Homo sapiens: one gene and its partners. The protein of the gene in region 2 purifies or fractionates together with the protein of the main gene of each other region. This does not show direct contact. Each region holds a gene or a part of one and is shown on either strand. Other genes may lie near its edges.

What was found. The genes of interacting proteins can lie anywhere in the genome.
Region 1: the proteins of SS18L2 (region 2) and BICRA purify together in Homo sapiens (affinity purification with mass spectrometry; one large-scale study listed by BioGRID and IntAct). This does not show direct contact.
Region 3: the proteins of SS18L2 (region 2) and ARID1B purify together in Homo sapiens (affinity purification with mass spectrometry; one large-scale study listed by BioGRID and IntAct). This does not show direct contact.
Region 4: the proteins of SS18L2 (region 2) and BCL7A purify together in Homo sapiens (co-immunoprecipitation; 2 studies listed by BioGRID and IntAct, with this or other methods). This does not show direct contact.

Annotation. Positions count from the first base shown.
Region 1 is NC_000019.10:47,689,134-47,692,633, reverse strand, and holds part of BICRA (BRD4-interacting chromatin-remodeling complex-associated protein), read right to left. Parts: intron 1-3,500. UniProt on the Homo sapiens protein: Component of SWI/SNF chromatin remodeling subcomplex GBAF that carries out key enzymatic activities, changing chromatin structure by altering DNA-histone contacts within a nucleosome in an ATP-dependent manner.
Region 2 is NC_000003.12:42,593,731-42,597,630, reverse strand, and holds the end of SS18L2 (SS18-like protein 2), read right to left. Parts: intron 3,210-3,900; coding exon 3,122-3,209; 3' UTR 697-3,121; downstream 1-696.
Region 3 is NC_000006.12:157,207,378-157,211,279, reverse strand, and holds the end of ARID1B (AT-rich interactive domain-containing protein 1B), read right to left. Parts: coding exon 3,389-3,902; 3' UTR 501-3,388; downstream 1-500. UniProt on the Homo sapiens protein: Involved in transcriptional activation and repression of select genes by chromatin remodeling (alteration of DNA-nucleosome topology).
Region 4 is NC_000012.12:122,024,884-122,028,383, reverse strand, and holds part of BCL7A (B-cell CLL/lymphoma 7 protein family member A), read right to left. Parts: intron 1-3,500.

The DNA of each region.
Region 1 (3,500 bases), on a different chromosome or scaffold from region 2:
CTGGTGGGACTGCCTCCTGGAAGGCAGCTTGGTCTGGGGACTTTGAAAGGGTCACAACTTTGACCTGGAAATTCCCCTCCAGGAATCTGTGATGAAGAATATTCGGCCGGGCACGGTGGCTCACGCCTGTAATCCCAGCACTTTGGGAGGCTGAGGCGGGCAGATAACCAGAGGTCAGGAGTTCGAGACCAGCCTGATCAATATGATGAAACCCTGTCTCTACTAAAAATACAAAAATAATTAGCCGGGCATGGTGGCATGCACCTGTAATCCCAGTTACTCAGGAGACTGAGGCTGGAGAATTGCTTGAACCCAGGAGGCGGAGGTTGTAGTGAAATGAGATCGCGCCACTGCACTCCAGCCTGGGCACAAGAGTGAAACTCCGTCTCAAAAAAAAAAAAGAATATTCAAGTACTTGCTATGGGGTTGCCCACTTTGGGAGCATTTACAATAGAGGAAAAGGAGAAATGACTCAAATGGCCAATGGCAGGTGCGTCGCTGAGTCGGAGAAAAGAGAACTGGCCCACTCAGTAGGTTCCAAGGGCTCAGGGAGGTGGCCCACATGCAGCGGCACTCCAATGCTACATGAAATAGGAGAATAATACAACATTACAGGATCCCTGGGCACCTGGTAAAGTTGGATTATGGACAGAGGATATGACAACAGTATCATGTCAATGCTGTCTGCTTTATTTCTTTGCAGTATGATGGTTAAGTAAGAGAATGTCCTTGTTCTCCAAGGCTGAAATATTATACTAAAATATTAAGGGGTAGGCTGGCCGCGGTGGCTCACGCTTGCAATCCCAGCACTTTGGGAGGCCAAGGCAGGTGGATCACTTGAGCCCAGGAGTTTGAGACCAGCCTAGTCAACATGGTGAAACCCCATCTGTACTAAAAACACAAAAATTAGCAGGGTGCGATGTGTGCCTGTAATCCCGGCCACTCAGGAGGCTGAGGCAAGAGAATTGCTTGAACCTGGGAGGCAGAGGCTACAGTGAGCCAAGATTGTACCACTGCACTCCAGACTAGGCGACAGAGTGAGACTCAGACTCAAAAATAAATAAATACATAAATAAATAAAATAAAATATTAAGGGGCAAACGGGTATAATGGTTGCAACTTACTCTCAACTGATTCAGAAAAAAGTGTACACAGAATGAGAATGCTAAGGTCAAGGCAGATGTAGCAAAAGGCTGACAATGGGTAGACGTGGGAGGCAGCCACCAACAATCCTCACCTCCTTGTGTTCAGTCCCCTCCCATATGCTGGTCTTTGTGGCCAATAGAATTTGGCAGAAGTGATTATATGACACTTCCAAGATTAGTTATAAAAAGCCTGCGGCTCCCATCCTGAGCATTCTGTCTGTTTCTATTGGGTCACTCACTTTGCGGGAAGCCAACCGCTGTGTGTCATGTGCTGCCCTTTGGAGAGGCCCACTGAGGAAGCAATTGAGGCCTCCTGCTAATAGCCACACAAGTGAGCGTGGGAGCAGGTTCTCCAGATCAGTGGGACCTTCAGATGACCACAACTTCATGGGAGATCCAGAGCTAGAACCTCCTAGCTAAGCTGCTTTCAGATTCCTAATGTTTAGAAACAGTGTGAGACACGTGAATACTTGCTGTTTGAAGCTGCTAAGTTTTGAGGGTAATTTCCTGCATAGCAATAGATAACTAATACATCTAGTTGAGGAGTAAAGAACTCCTATGAGCTCTCTGTACTAATTCTGAAACTTTTTATGTGTTTGAAGTCATTTAAACATAAAAAGCTTAAAGATACCAAAAAATTAAAAAAATTTAATTTCATTCTCATCAAAAGTGCGCACACACACACACACACACACAATCCACAAATTAAGTCACATGCCAAATGACTTACTGGGGAAAACAGTTGCAACTCCAAATACAAAGTTCATCTCTCTCATATATAGAGAGACTCTAGAAATCACTAAGAATTACAACTGGTGAAAAAGGGGCAAAGGATATGATCAGACAGTGCACAGAAAAGGAAAGACAAAAGGCTTAAGTATTTTCAGAGCTACTCAACCTCACTTGTAATAAGAGAAATGCACAGCAAAACGCACCCCAGGGCACTATTTTTCACCCTAGGGTACCATTTACCACCCGTCGCATTAGGAATAAAGCCTATGTCTAGTAAAGATGCTTGTATATACTGCCCTTAGGGGTCTCAACTGGCACAATTTGCTACAACTCAAGAGGAACGCAATTCAGCAGTAGCTATCCAAGTTATAAATGCACATTTGCTTTAGTCCAGCAAACAGGCTTCCAGGAAGTAAACAGACCTGCATATGTGGGAAATAACAGGTGAACAAGTAGGCCGGGCGCGGTGGCTCACACCTGTAATCCCAGCACTTTGGGAGGCTGAGGCGGGTGGATCACCTGAGGTCAGGAGTTTGAGACCAGCCTGGCCAACATGGTGAAACCCCGTCTCTATTAAAAATACAAAAATTAGCTGGGCATGGTGGCGTGCACCTGTAATCCCAGCTACTAGGGAGGCTGAGTCAGGAGAATTGCTTGAACCTGGGAGGCGGAGGTTGCAGTGAGCCAGTATCACGCCATTGCACTCCAGCCTGGGCAAAAAGAGCGAAACTCTGTCTCAAAAACAAAAACAAAAACAAAACAGGTGAACAAGTTGTTTCCTGCAGCTTCGTGTAGAACGCCAAAATCTGGATATGGTCTAAAGTGCATCAATATGGCATTTCCTGGGGAAATGAACTGTGGCTCTTCTGTACAAAGGAATACTTCAAGACTCTAACAGAAAACAAGCAAACTCACTGTTGCTGCCACAGTAAGTACATAATGAGCTCCCCTTTGGGTACAAATGGGAGAGAAACGTAAACCATATTTGCACTAGGTTGTATATACACGAAGAACTGGAAAGGGATACAAAAATTAGGCCAGGTGGCCAGGCGTGGTGGCTCACGCCTATAATAATCCCAGTACTTTGGGAGGCCAGGCAGGCGGATCACCTGAGGTCAGGAGTTCAAGACCAGCCTGGCCAACATGGCGAAACCCTGTCTCTACTAAAAATACAGAAATTAGCAGGGCGGGATGGTGTGCACCTGTAATCCCAGCTACTCCGGAGGCTGAGGCAGGGAGAACTGCTTGAACCCAGCAGGCGTAGCTTGCAGTGAGCCAAGATCTTGCCACTGCACTCCAGCCTGGGCGACAGAGAGAGACTCAGTCTCAGAAAAAATAAATAAAAATAAATTAGGCCAGGCTCAGTGGCTCATGCCTGTAATCCCAGCACTCTCGGAGGCCAAGGCAGGAGGACTGCTTGAGCCCAGGAGTTCAAGACCAGCCTGGGCAACAGAGCAAGACCCTGTCTCTGGAAAAAAAGAAAAAAAAACTTTCTGATGATCATACTATGTGAATAAAATGACTTATTTAAAAAATGTTTTAAATAAAATTGGGGTCGGGGGGTTAAACAGAAACTTCATACCAAAATATTACTTCTTCTACAATATTTGTCTTAGAAAAAAC
Region 2 (3,900 bases):
GCGGGTTGGACAAGCTTGACTTAGATCATTTCTGACCTGTTTCTGCACCTATGTCACCTTTTTTTTTTTTTTTTTGAGACAAAGTCTCGCTCCGTCGCCCAGGTTGGAGTGCAGTGGCACGATCTTGGCTCACTGCAACCTCTGCCTCCTGAGATCAAGCGATTCCCCTGCCTCAGCCTCCAGTGTAGCTGAGACTACAGGCACACGCCACCACACCTGGCTAATTTTTTTGTATTTTTAGTAGAGACAGGGTTTCACCATGTTGGTCAGGCTGGTCTCGATCTCCTGACCTTGTGATCTGCCCGCGTTGGCCTCCCAAAGTGCTGGGATTACAGGCATGAGTCACTGCACCCAGCCGTCCATGTCACCTTTTTAAAGTACAGTCAAACCTTTGGTACTTCCACACCATCACAGAAGTGCTGTCCTTTGTTAGAGCTTGCCCATTCTACCTCCCTGAGAGTCCAGTGTGTCTATTAGAGGAGCAGTCTGTAGGCTGAATTGAGAAGCTAGCGGTCTTGGGTCTGATTTTGCTGACAATTACAGACTTGAACAGTATGAAATGTACATGCCTTTCTGGAGATGAAATAGTTTGATAAAGCTAACTTTCATACATGGATTCATGAAAGGAAAGGATGGAGACCATTACCCAGCTTTGTAATTACCGTGTTTAGGACATCAGGCTTCAATGTAAATAGGTTTTAGAGCTCAGGAATGAAATATTTAATTTGGGATATACTTAAACAACTTTAAACCTAGAATTCATTCTTATCTTGACATTCCAGCAATTCTCTTCTTTCTGCCACTGGTTATGTGACCTGAGACAAATCACTTTGATCTCTCTGAAGTTTACTTTCTTCATCTGTAAAATAAATGAGATAAAATATCTCCTTTCTAAGGTTCTGCCTCTCTCAAAGATTATTTTATTCTGTCTTGTGATTTGAAATTATATTTTAGATGATTCGAAGATAAAAGTATGCAATTTGGTCTGTGATTAAGGTGAAGAAACTCCTGGGACAAGGCAGGCCTAGGGCTAGTATCAACCAAAATGACTGACACCTCCTCCATCTCTTCCAAGAGTGGTAGAAAGTTGGTATCCAAAGAGTTTACAAACTCAGGCTTAATTTGTCCATGATTTATCATGAAGAAGAACCACTGGTAGTACGAATTTTCAGGTAATGATTCTGGGGTTCAGCCTTTTAGAGTGTGATTATGCCAGCAATTAGAACTTCAGGGGATAGGACTCTGGAAAACCATCAGGAATGCTAGTGGGGAAACAGACAAAATAATTTTCTAGAAAACAGAAATGATCGGCTGGGCGCGGTGGCTTACGCCTGTAATCCCAGCACTCTAGGAGGCTGAGGCAGGTGGATCACCTGAGGTCGTGAGTACGAGACCAGCCTGACCAACATGGAGAAACCCCGTCTCTACTAAAAATACCAAAATTAGCCAGGCATGGTGCCACATGCCTGTAATCCCAGCTACTTGGGAGGCTGAGGCAGGAGAATCACTTGAACCCAGGAGGTAGAGGTTGCAGTGAGCCAAAATTGCACCACTGCACTCCGACAGAGCGAGATTCCGTCTCAAAAAAAAACAAAAACAAAAACAAAACAAAACAAAACCAAAAAAAAGAAGAAAAAGAAAAAAGAAAGAGCCAGAGCCCTCAGCACATTAGTGCTAACATAGATTAACATGTGCCCAGTTCTCAACCACGTTATCTCAGTCTCACAACCTCAGGAGGCAGATGCTATTTTCATTATCCTCACTTTAGAGGTGAGGAAACAGAGCTTTCAGAGGTTAAGGGATAGAGCTGGGATTCAAAATGAGTTATCTCTTCACTATTTACATGTATTTTACAGTTGCCCTAGGTTGCAACCCTTGACTCCAAAAAAAGGAGCAGGGACCTGGGCTTCTAATTTTGGATATACTTACAAGAATCCCTTTGCCTCATCTTTCAGATAAATCTCCAAGAGTGAAAGTTTTTTATAGAATACAGCTAATAAAGTCAGAAAGAATGATAAATTAGAAAATCCTCATTATGTAATCCCTAATGAATTACCACATCAAAGCTGGGTGGATCATAATTTAAGTGAAAGGCTGGTTGGGAACTTAAAAGTCAGGTCACTCCTTATGTGATGCAAAAGCAAGTACTTATCACCTTCTAATATATTCCTGCTAAAAATATTAGAACATGAGTCTGCATGAGCCTCTAGATCTACTAGTTTACAGGAAAAGTGGATGATAGTGGCACATAATTAACAACACTACAGAGATACAACTGTATGTAGAACACGAGAGAATTCTAGGGTAAACACCTAGTTATTTCAACAAATAAAGAAAAAAAGGAACTATTAAGTATTCTTTAAGTGACTTAAAGGAACATCAACAAAATACAACATGTGAATCTTATTTGGATTCTGGTTCAGACAAATCAACAAAAAGACTATCTGATAACTGAAGAAAATTAAACATCATCTATTATCAGATGATATTAGATAATAATTAGAAATCACTATTCATTTTGTTGGCAATGATAATAGTATTGTTTTTATATACTTTATGGTTAAGTCCTCACAGTTATTCTTGAAAACCAAATGGAATACTTATTACATGAAAACTTCTATACCTCCACATCAGTATTTTATAGAAAAATAAGCTTTATTTCAAAGCAATCTGAAAACAGCAGTCAGGGGGACCACATTTACAAACTGATAGGAAGGAGCACACAGTTACATGTCCATTTAGCAAGGTATCAAGTCAGGAATCTCACCAATTCCTGCCCAACACCTACTGAGTTTCCTCTTCAGGTTGAAACTAAAAAGTAGACTTGAACATCCCAGTGATGTCTTTGTTATCCAAACATGCTCCAAGTTCAGGAAAGAGGACACCTGGGCTCAACTTATTGAGGGATTTGCTTAATTATTTAAAAAATATTTACATGAGAATACAGCTAAGTTAGTAGCTTTCTTCACATTTTCACGTTTCGAAAGAGCCACAGAGGTTTCATTCATGTTTTAACCAGTTGAGTTGGTAAAGACCCTGTCTCCATTTTGTAAGAGATGGATTACATTCAATTACTCCTCACGACAGCCAAATGGAAGATTATTCTATTGCTTTTGAAAGATTATTCCATTGCTTTTGAAGTGCTGGTTGGACTGGCATCTGCAATGGTAGCCAAATAAATGAGATTTCTATGTAACACATGCTGGTACCTATGGGCAAAAAAACAGGCAAAAATCAGAGGCTTGTTTTTACCGACCATGAACAAAAAACTGGAAAATAATTTACCCACTCTAGTGGAATGGCTCATCCACTGACTGGATGATTCAGTGTTATCAACCTTCTTGTTTAACATATTTAAGGAAAATATAGTCAGATTCTCACCCATTCTTACTGATTACTTTCATAGCTACTATCATTTCTTGCTTGAACTATTGCAGTAGACACCTAGTCTCCCAGATCTATCTTTGCGCACCTACTTTATTCTCCACATAACAGCCTGAGAGATTACTGTACAATTTAAATCAAAATCATGTTATATGTCTATTCAAAACCTTCCAAAGGCTCCCATCTCATTCAGGTAAAGGTGAGCTGTTCTTGTGTCCTAATAAGGCCCTACATGATGGGGGCCTCCAGTCCCCCTCTGATCTCACCTCTTATGGCTATACCTTTGTTCACTGAATACTGGCCACAGTGGCCTCCTTCTGTGACTTGAAGATATCCGGCACACTCCTACTAGGGGGCTTTTCCACCTGATGCTTTCTCTGTCTTACTTATCTCACTATGCCTTACTACTGCATAGCTGGCTCCCTTACCCCAGGTCTCTACTCAAATATCACCTTATCAGACATACCATGTATAAAATAGCACTCCTCCCCCCACTTACTCTGCTTTATTCTTATT
Region 3 (3,902 bases), on a different chromosome or scaffold from region 2:
CCAAGTTCTTCTAGGCTGGTGCTGAGCAGGACTTCAGGCAGCTGGGCCACGGCCCTCGAAATAAAGAAGTGAACCAACACTCAGCAAGAAGAACAGGGACTGTTTGCACTGTCCATTTGTGGCTCATTTATAATACTTTCTTTGCTTCCTCAAAGGTGAACAGACATGGGAACAGGTACATGTGGTTTGATAGGAAATGAAAGATTTCCAACAGTTTTAAATGGATGGACTTCAGGGCAAAGGCTGGCTTCTTTTCATAAAGGAGGTAGTTAATAGCTTACATTGTATGAGACTGCCCATATGCCCTTAAAAAAATCATTCTTCATTATAACTCTGAAAAAACAGCTTAACTAGTCTTTGAACAGGCCACCTTCATCAGTAAAACATGCTTCTATATCATTCTCTTCCTCGAACAAAACACTGTGAATAGCTATTGCTGAGCAGACGCCGCCCAGTATCTCTTATGTGACATTAAAAAAATCCACTCAAATACCAACAGATTCAACTTTATAGCACCATTCCAAAATACTAAACTTTCTTTGCACCTTTATTTTTTATCTTTTTTTTTTTTTTGGTACACATGTAAAGTCTGGGCATCCTGTAAATTTCTGAAAAGCCTCATAGAAAAAAAAAAACCGACTAATTTTTAGGACAAAGCAATAACTCAGTTTATAGGCAAGATGATCTCAAGCAGGCTGTAAATTCTTCGTGGGCTTCTGTAAATCTTGATTCGGGGGTGAGAATATGGAAAGGAGGCTAAAGTCTTCCTGGATTAGTCTCTAGAGACTGTGTTGCGCATCAGGATAGAAAAACTTGTTGCCCAACGGTCAGACTCTGCGTATCGGTTACAATGCAAACCATAACAACAGTCTTTTGTTAATTATTTTACTCTTCTGATTGACAAAGGAATTGGAATACTGGATATGTTCGGAGTTTGTATACACCTTTTATTTGTACTCTGTAAGAGAGAAATTAGAATAATATTGAATTCCCTCTTACAAATCTCCATATTTGAAGCTTGGAGCACTGAAATCTGTTCTTAGCAAGCAGATGTATTTAAAGCAGAATTATAAATGGGTCTTTAATTCAACATATATTTGGTTGCATTGTTATGTAAGAAGACTGTTTGACTCAGTAATGTGGGAGTTGACAGATGAGAGACTGTTTGCAGAAAAGATGATTTTTTTCCTCGTGACACTGGAGAGTCACGTCTCACAATGACTGTAACTGCATGTTCTTGTCTAACTCTTCCATATATTACTGTGAGTAATGTGAACCGACACAATGTATGCGAGGGGCTGGGGATTCTGAGTATACTGTGATTGGGAGAGGGAAGAGAAGAGGTAGAGGTCCACTAACAGCATAATTATGCAGCAGTTTCAAAGAAATCGATTATTACACAGTAACAGTCAATGACCCAGGAAGAGAAAGTTTAAATTAGAAGTGACTAGTATTAAAAAGCTACTGTGCACCAGGTAGGAAGGAATATGAGAACCATAATATGCCCTGAAATAGAAATCATCACTTTGCACTATGTACACCACATACAATATAACAGATTCTTTTTTAACATTGCACAGTATAAATATTATACACGGTGGAGTAAACTAAATGCAAAATAACTCTGAGGCACACAGAAGAAACAAGGAATAGATTGAACTTTGATTAAACTAAGATGGAGTTAGTAAAAGGCAGAATGTTACATTTTCAGGCCAGTTAAGCTTCTGAGATCTCACCTCAAGTGGGTCAGCAGCCACCTCCCATAAATACTGAAAATGATCATACCTCAATGTCGTTAGAGTTAATTGCTTCAAAGAAAGACTAATTAGCTAAGTAATTTGAGAAAATCAAACTGTTGCTCCCCACTCTAAAGTAGGTAACCCCTAAAGGTCTCTTCCAAATGTAGGGTTTTATAATGTGAATACACTGCTGCATTCCCCTATTTCTTGTAAATAACTTGATTACTAGGAAACCACTTTAAGGAAACTAGAACAGTATTCAAGAACACCCATCACAGTGCTTAACAAGATTTAATGTACATTTATTCTTAACATGTGGAACATATAAAGATTTTATACTGAATAAATGATATTCATTAAGCCAGAGGAAAAGGAGGAATTTACATCAAGTTTTTTTCTTTTTTTTTTTTTTAAACTACATTATCTTGAAATACAAATGTGGATTCTCATCACTGAAAAATCTTTGAAGTTGTGTTTCTTCCTTTTAGTTGTATTTTTTTCATTTTCTCTTTTTTGACTGTACTGGTAACCATTTTCTAAATCAATCCATATATAACCATTTCCACACCTTGATTCATGAAGCAAATTGTGATCAGCTGCTCTCCTGAAATCGAGCATGACTTTATACATACAGAAACTTGTACATTACCCTCTTTTTTTTTTGTTTTTGTTTTTTGTATTTTTTCTTTCTTTTTTTGGAGATATGGCCCTAATGAAAAAATATATAAAATAAAAATAAAAAATTATTTAAATCTACCATCACTTCGTAGTTACCACATCATGAAAAAGAAACTAAAACTTTGTACTAAAAAAAAAAAAAAAAAAGAAAAGAAAAAAATGAGGGTATGTTTAATGTACAACTTCTATATACATCACAGCCCATAGGCAGTAAAAAAAATATTTAAAAAATGATGAAAGGAATTGTGAAGAACTGTCACGTGGAAGGTCAAACGCCGACAGCAGGCATGACGGGAGTGGTGAGGAGCAGTTTCCGGATCGTTGTCAGGTATGTATTCTCAATCTTAAAAAACATTGTTTTTGCTCCCAGCCTAATGGAACCATATTCCTGTGGAGAAACCAGTATCATTTCATAGTTTTGACTACTGACCGACATACCTCCTTGAGCCCCTATACCTGTATCTGTAGAAATTTCTATTGCACAGAACTTTGGGTGATGGGATGCAGTTTTTTTCATTCTCTGAGGAGTAAAACGCATAGGAAATGGATAATTTTTCACCTTTTTGACTCAGTGTGGTGAAATTTTCGCATCTTAGCATCTTTTGCCACAACTTTTTTCTTTAAAGTCAATTTGCTTCCCCCAAAAATGCAATACAACATGGGAAAGAACATTAAAAAGATCTGTGAAGAACAAAAAGTGACCTTTGAATGCACTAGACAGCAACTTTGGTTAAAAAAAAGAGAAAAAAAAAACCCCAAAGGATGTACTTATACACACAGACAGCAAATATTAATTTCATAACTGTTCAAATTAATTATTTCTTTAATTCCCAATTGGTAAATAGTGAATGGGGCAGAGGAGCAAAGATTTTCTTTTCCTTCTTCCTACGCTGGATAAACAAGAACAGAAAACAGCCAGTTATATGTGACCCTCTAATCTTCACTCACACATGCTTGCCTTCTCACTTATGTCATAACTGCCCAATCTGAAACAGTACATCACAGATGACAGATGCAACCAGAGAGTTCAGGACAGCTGATATCGAGATATCCAGCAACCGGCCCTCGTGCAAAAGGAATTCCGAGCGGTTTTCGTCCACTCTGGCCATGGCTAGCAAAGCCTTGGCCGCCCTGCACATCATGTCTACGCTAGGTGGTTCCAGGGGCGGGGGCTGCATGTGCATGAGGTTGTGCTGGCTCTGCTGGTACTGGGCCATCGTGACCCCATCCTCTAGGAAGCTTATCAAGTTTCCAATGCTTCCTTTCTGCACAGCTATGGCCCTTGCTGCTAGTGCGTCCCCTTGGGCAAGGTTCGATAAAAGCGCCATGGACATTTCTCGACAGACTGGGTTTTTGCGATCCCCAACGTACCTAACTAATGTAGCATAGAATTTCTCCTGACGACTAAATGGAGGAGTGGCCAAGATCAGGTCCACATTATTGTCCTGGATACTGAGTTTACAGAGGGTCTCCAGCACAAGTCTC
Region 4 (3,500 bases), on a different chromosome or scaffold from region 2:
TTCAGGGCAGAAAGTGTGCCAGAGATCTGGGCTTTGCGGCCGCAAATCAGCCAAGATGCAAGTTTGCAGCTGCTTCCCAGCGAGGCTCGAGGCCACCGCAGGCTACAAGCTGAATGCAGCCAGGCTTTCGTGCCTCTCTTTGCCCCAACTGGCAACCTCTTCACCGAGTTCTCAAGTTACCCCAGTGATGAGAAACTGTATTTCTAGGTGTGGACATTGAGGGGACTCTGGGACAGAGGCAAGAACATTAAGAATTCTACCTCTGAGCTGGACCTATGCTCAGCTAAGCAGCCACCCGGAGGGGCCATGGAGCTCAAGTTTAAGGCACCAAGTGAGCACCCAGGAGGACATGGGATTTCACAGCCACAGACACACTGGGTGGGCACACGGGTTCAGCGGAGCAGCTGAGGTTTCCCACAATTGCCCCCCAAAACCATCACCACAGAACACATACCCCTCCCCAAAAAAGGGCGTTGCTCCTCTTCCCCAATGAGGGTATTAAGCTATACTCATCACTTTCTTATTTTTTTATTTTTTTTATTTTTTTGAGACGGACTCCTGCTCTGTGGCCCAGGCTGGAGTGCAGTGGCACAATCTCGGCTCACTGCAACCTCCGCCTCCCGGGTTCAAGCGATTCTCCTGCCTCAGCCTCCTGAGTAGCTGGGACTACAAGCACATGCCACCACGCCCGGCTAATTTTTGTATTTTTAGTAGAGACGGGTTTCACCATGTTGGCCAGGCTGACATCAAACTCTTGACCTCAGGTGACCCACCCGCCTTGGCCTCCCAAAGTGCTGGAATTACAGGTATAAGCCACTGTGCCCAGCCTATTTGTTATTTTTTTGAGATAAGGTCTCCCTCTGTTGCCCAGGCTGGAGTGCGGTGGTGCGATCACTGCTCACTGCAGCCTCGACCTCCTGGGCTCAAGTGATCTTCCTGCCTTGGCCTCCCAAAATGCTGGGATTACAGGTGTGAGCCACCACACATGGGCCCCACTTTATATTTAGGATGGCAAACAACCAGTCAACAGGCGTGTTTTGTTTGGCCTGCACAGTACTTTAAAAATGTTAAATCTGCTGCCAAACTTCAAACAAACAAACAAACAAACAACAAAACAGGCTTTGCATAAGAATCCAGACTTCTGGCTACTCTTGAAAACATGACCTGGGCCCACATGCCCCAGGGAGCGACAGCTTGCCCCAGATGGGCTCTCTGGCCCCCCTCAGATGCCCTCACTCTTGACACCTGTAAGCACCAGGTGCAGAAATCCCCACAACCACCAGGCTGCAGCCCAACTTGCTGCAAAGCTGGCCCTGGGTGTGCCCCGCGCCTCCTGTCTTGGCGGCCCCGTCACCTTACCCTGACTTCAACACCTTTCCCTTCCCATTACACTTGAGCTTCTGGGAGGAAAGGAAAAAATGAGGTCCCAGCAGTAGGAATATAGCCCCAACTGCTCCTCCCCAGCACGGACTCCTATATAAACTACAAGAATCCATCCCAGATTCTCCAGGCTAAGGCCAATTTCGAATGTTCTCCTGTGTCCAGGTCCAAGGGTTAGCCAACAAGACCATCTTAGGGTTACCCACCACTCAAGGGGACCCTGCTGACTCCCTCCAGGAAAGCTCTACTCCCTGTCCTTGTACTCACTCCTCATGGCTAGTCCCTGTCACCTCAAGAGGCCTGGCCCATGGCTGGCCTCACCCTAGCTAGGCCCAGGTCTGCCTGACCTGCCATGTGCCCAGTAGGAATGTCTCCATGATGAAACCTCTGGAGGAGCTGAGGTGAGGGAGGCCTCAGGCCCAAACCTCTACCTCTCCTGGGACAGACGGGAGCTCTTCAGGCACAGACCTTTCTCAGTCCTCACAGCAAGTCATTGAGGGAACCCTCAGACCAGGTGCTAAGGGGTCCTGGGCCTAAGCCTACTTTTTTTGTTTGTTTTTTGAGACAAGGTCTCACCCTGTCACCCAGGCTAGAGTACAGTGGCACAATCGTAGCTCACTGCAGCCTCAACCTCCTGGGCTCAAGTGATCCTCCAGGCTTAGCCTCCTGAGTAGCTGGGATTACAGACGAGGGTCACCATGCCTGTCTAATTTTTTTCTTTTTTTTTTTTTTTTTTTGAGACGGAGTCTCGCTCTGTCGCCCAGGCTGGAGTACAGTGGTGCAATCTTGGCTCACTGCAAGCTCTGCCTCGTGGGTTCATGCCATTCTCCTGCCTCATCCTCCCAAGTAGGTGGGACTATAGGCGCCTGCCACCACTCCCGGCTAATTTTTTGTATTTTTAGTAGAGATGGGGTTTCACTGTTAGCCAGGATGGTCTCGATCTCCTGACCTCGTGATCCTCCCTCCTCGGCCTCCTAAAGTGCTGGGATTACAGGTGTGAGCCAACGTGCCCGGCCTTTTCTCTTTTCTTTCTTCTTTTTTTTTTTTTTTTTTTTTTGAGATGGAGTCTTGCTCTGTTGCTCAGGCTGGAGTGCAGTGGCGCGATCTCGGCTTACTGCAACCTGCGCCTCCCAGGTTCAAGCAATTTTCCTGCCTCAGCCTTAAGAGTAGCTGGGATTACAGGCGTGTACCACCACATCCAGCTAATTTTTTGTATTTTTAGTAGAGACAGGGTTTCACCATGTTGGCCAGGCTGGTTTCCAACTCCTGACTTCAGGTGACCTGCCTGCCTCGGCCTCCCAAAGTGCTGGGATTACAGGCATGAGCCACTGCGTCCAGACTAATTTTTCTTTTTTCTTCTTCTTCTTTTTTTTTTTTGAGATGGAGTCTCGCTCTGTTGCCCAGGCTGGAGTGCGGTGGCGCAATCTCCGCTCACTGCAAGCTCCACCTCCTGGGTTCCCGCCATTCTCCTGCCTCAGCCTCCCAAGTAGCTGGGACTACAGGCGCCCGCCACCACGCCTGGCTAATTTTTTTGTATTTTTTTAGTAGAGACGGGGTTTCACCATGTTTGCCAGGATGGTCTTGATCTCCTGACCTCGTGATCCGCCTGCCCGGCCTCCCAGAGTGCTGAAATTACAGGCGTGAGCCACCGCGCCCGGCTCTTTTTTTTCTTTTTCTTTTTTTTTGGTTTGAGACCCAGGCTGGTCTCAAACTCCTGGGCTCAAGCAATCCTCCTGTCTCAGCCTCCCAAAGCTCTGGGATTACAGGCGTGAGCCACCGCAGCGGGCCTCCAAGCTTACGCTGCAGCCCAAGCTTTCGTCTCCTACCATCGCCCTGGGGTCTTCTCTCCTCCACCAGCACAGGGCCCCCAAACCCTGGCCCAGTTTCCCAAAAAGAGGCCCACCATTTTGTTTTCCCTTTAGCCATCTTCTGGTCACCTCACCTCCACTGGCCTGCCTTGCTGAAACACCAGAAAAAGAGAACAGGAGGCAGCCTGCCCCAAATGAGAGGGAGGCCACAGCTTTTTCCGGGGGTGGGGGAAGCATCAGGGGACAGTGGGTGGGTCGGGGGGGTAATTTTAGGGGTCACTAGGGCTGAGGAGAAACCCACCCAAGGCTCAT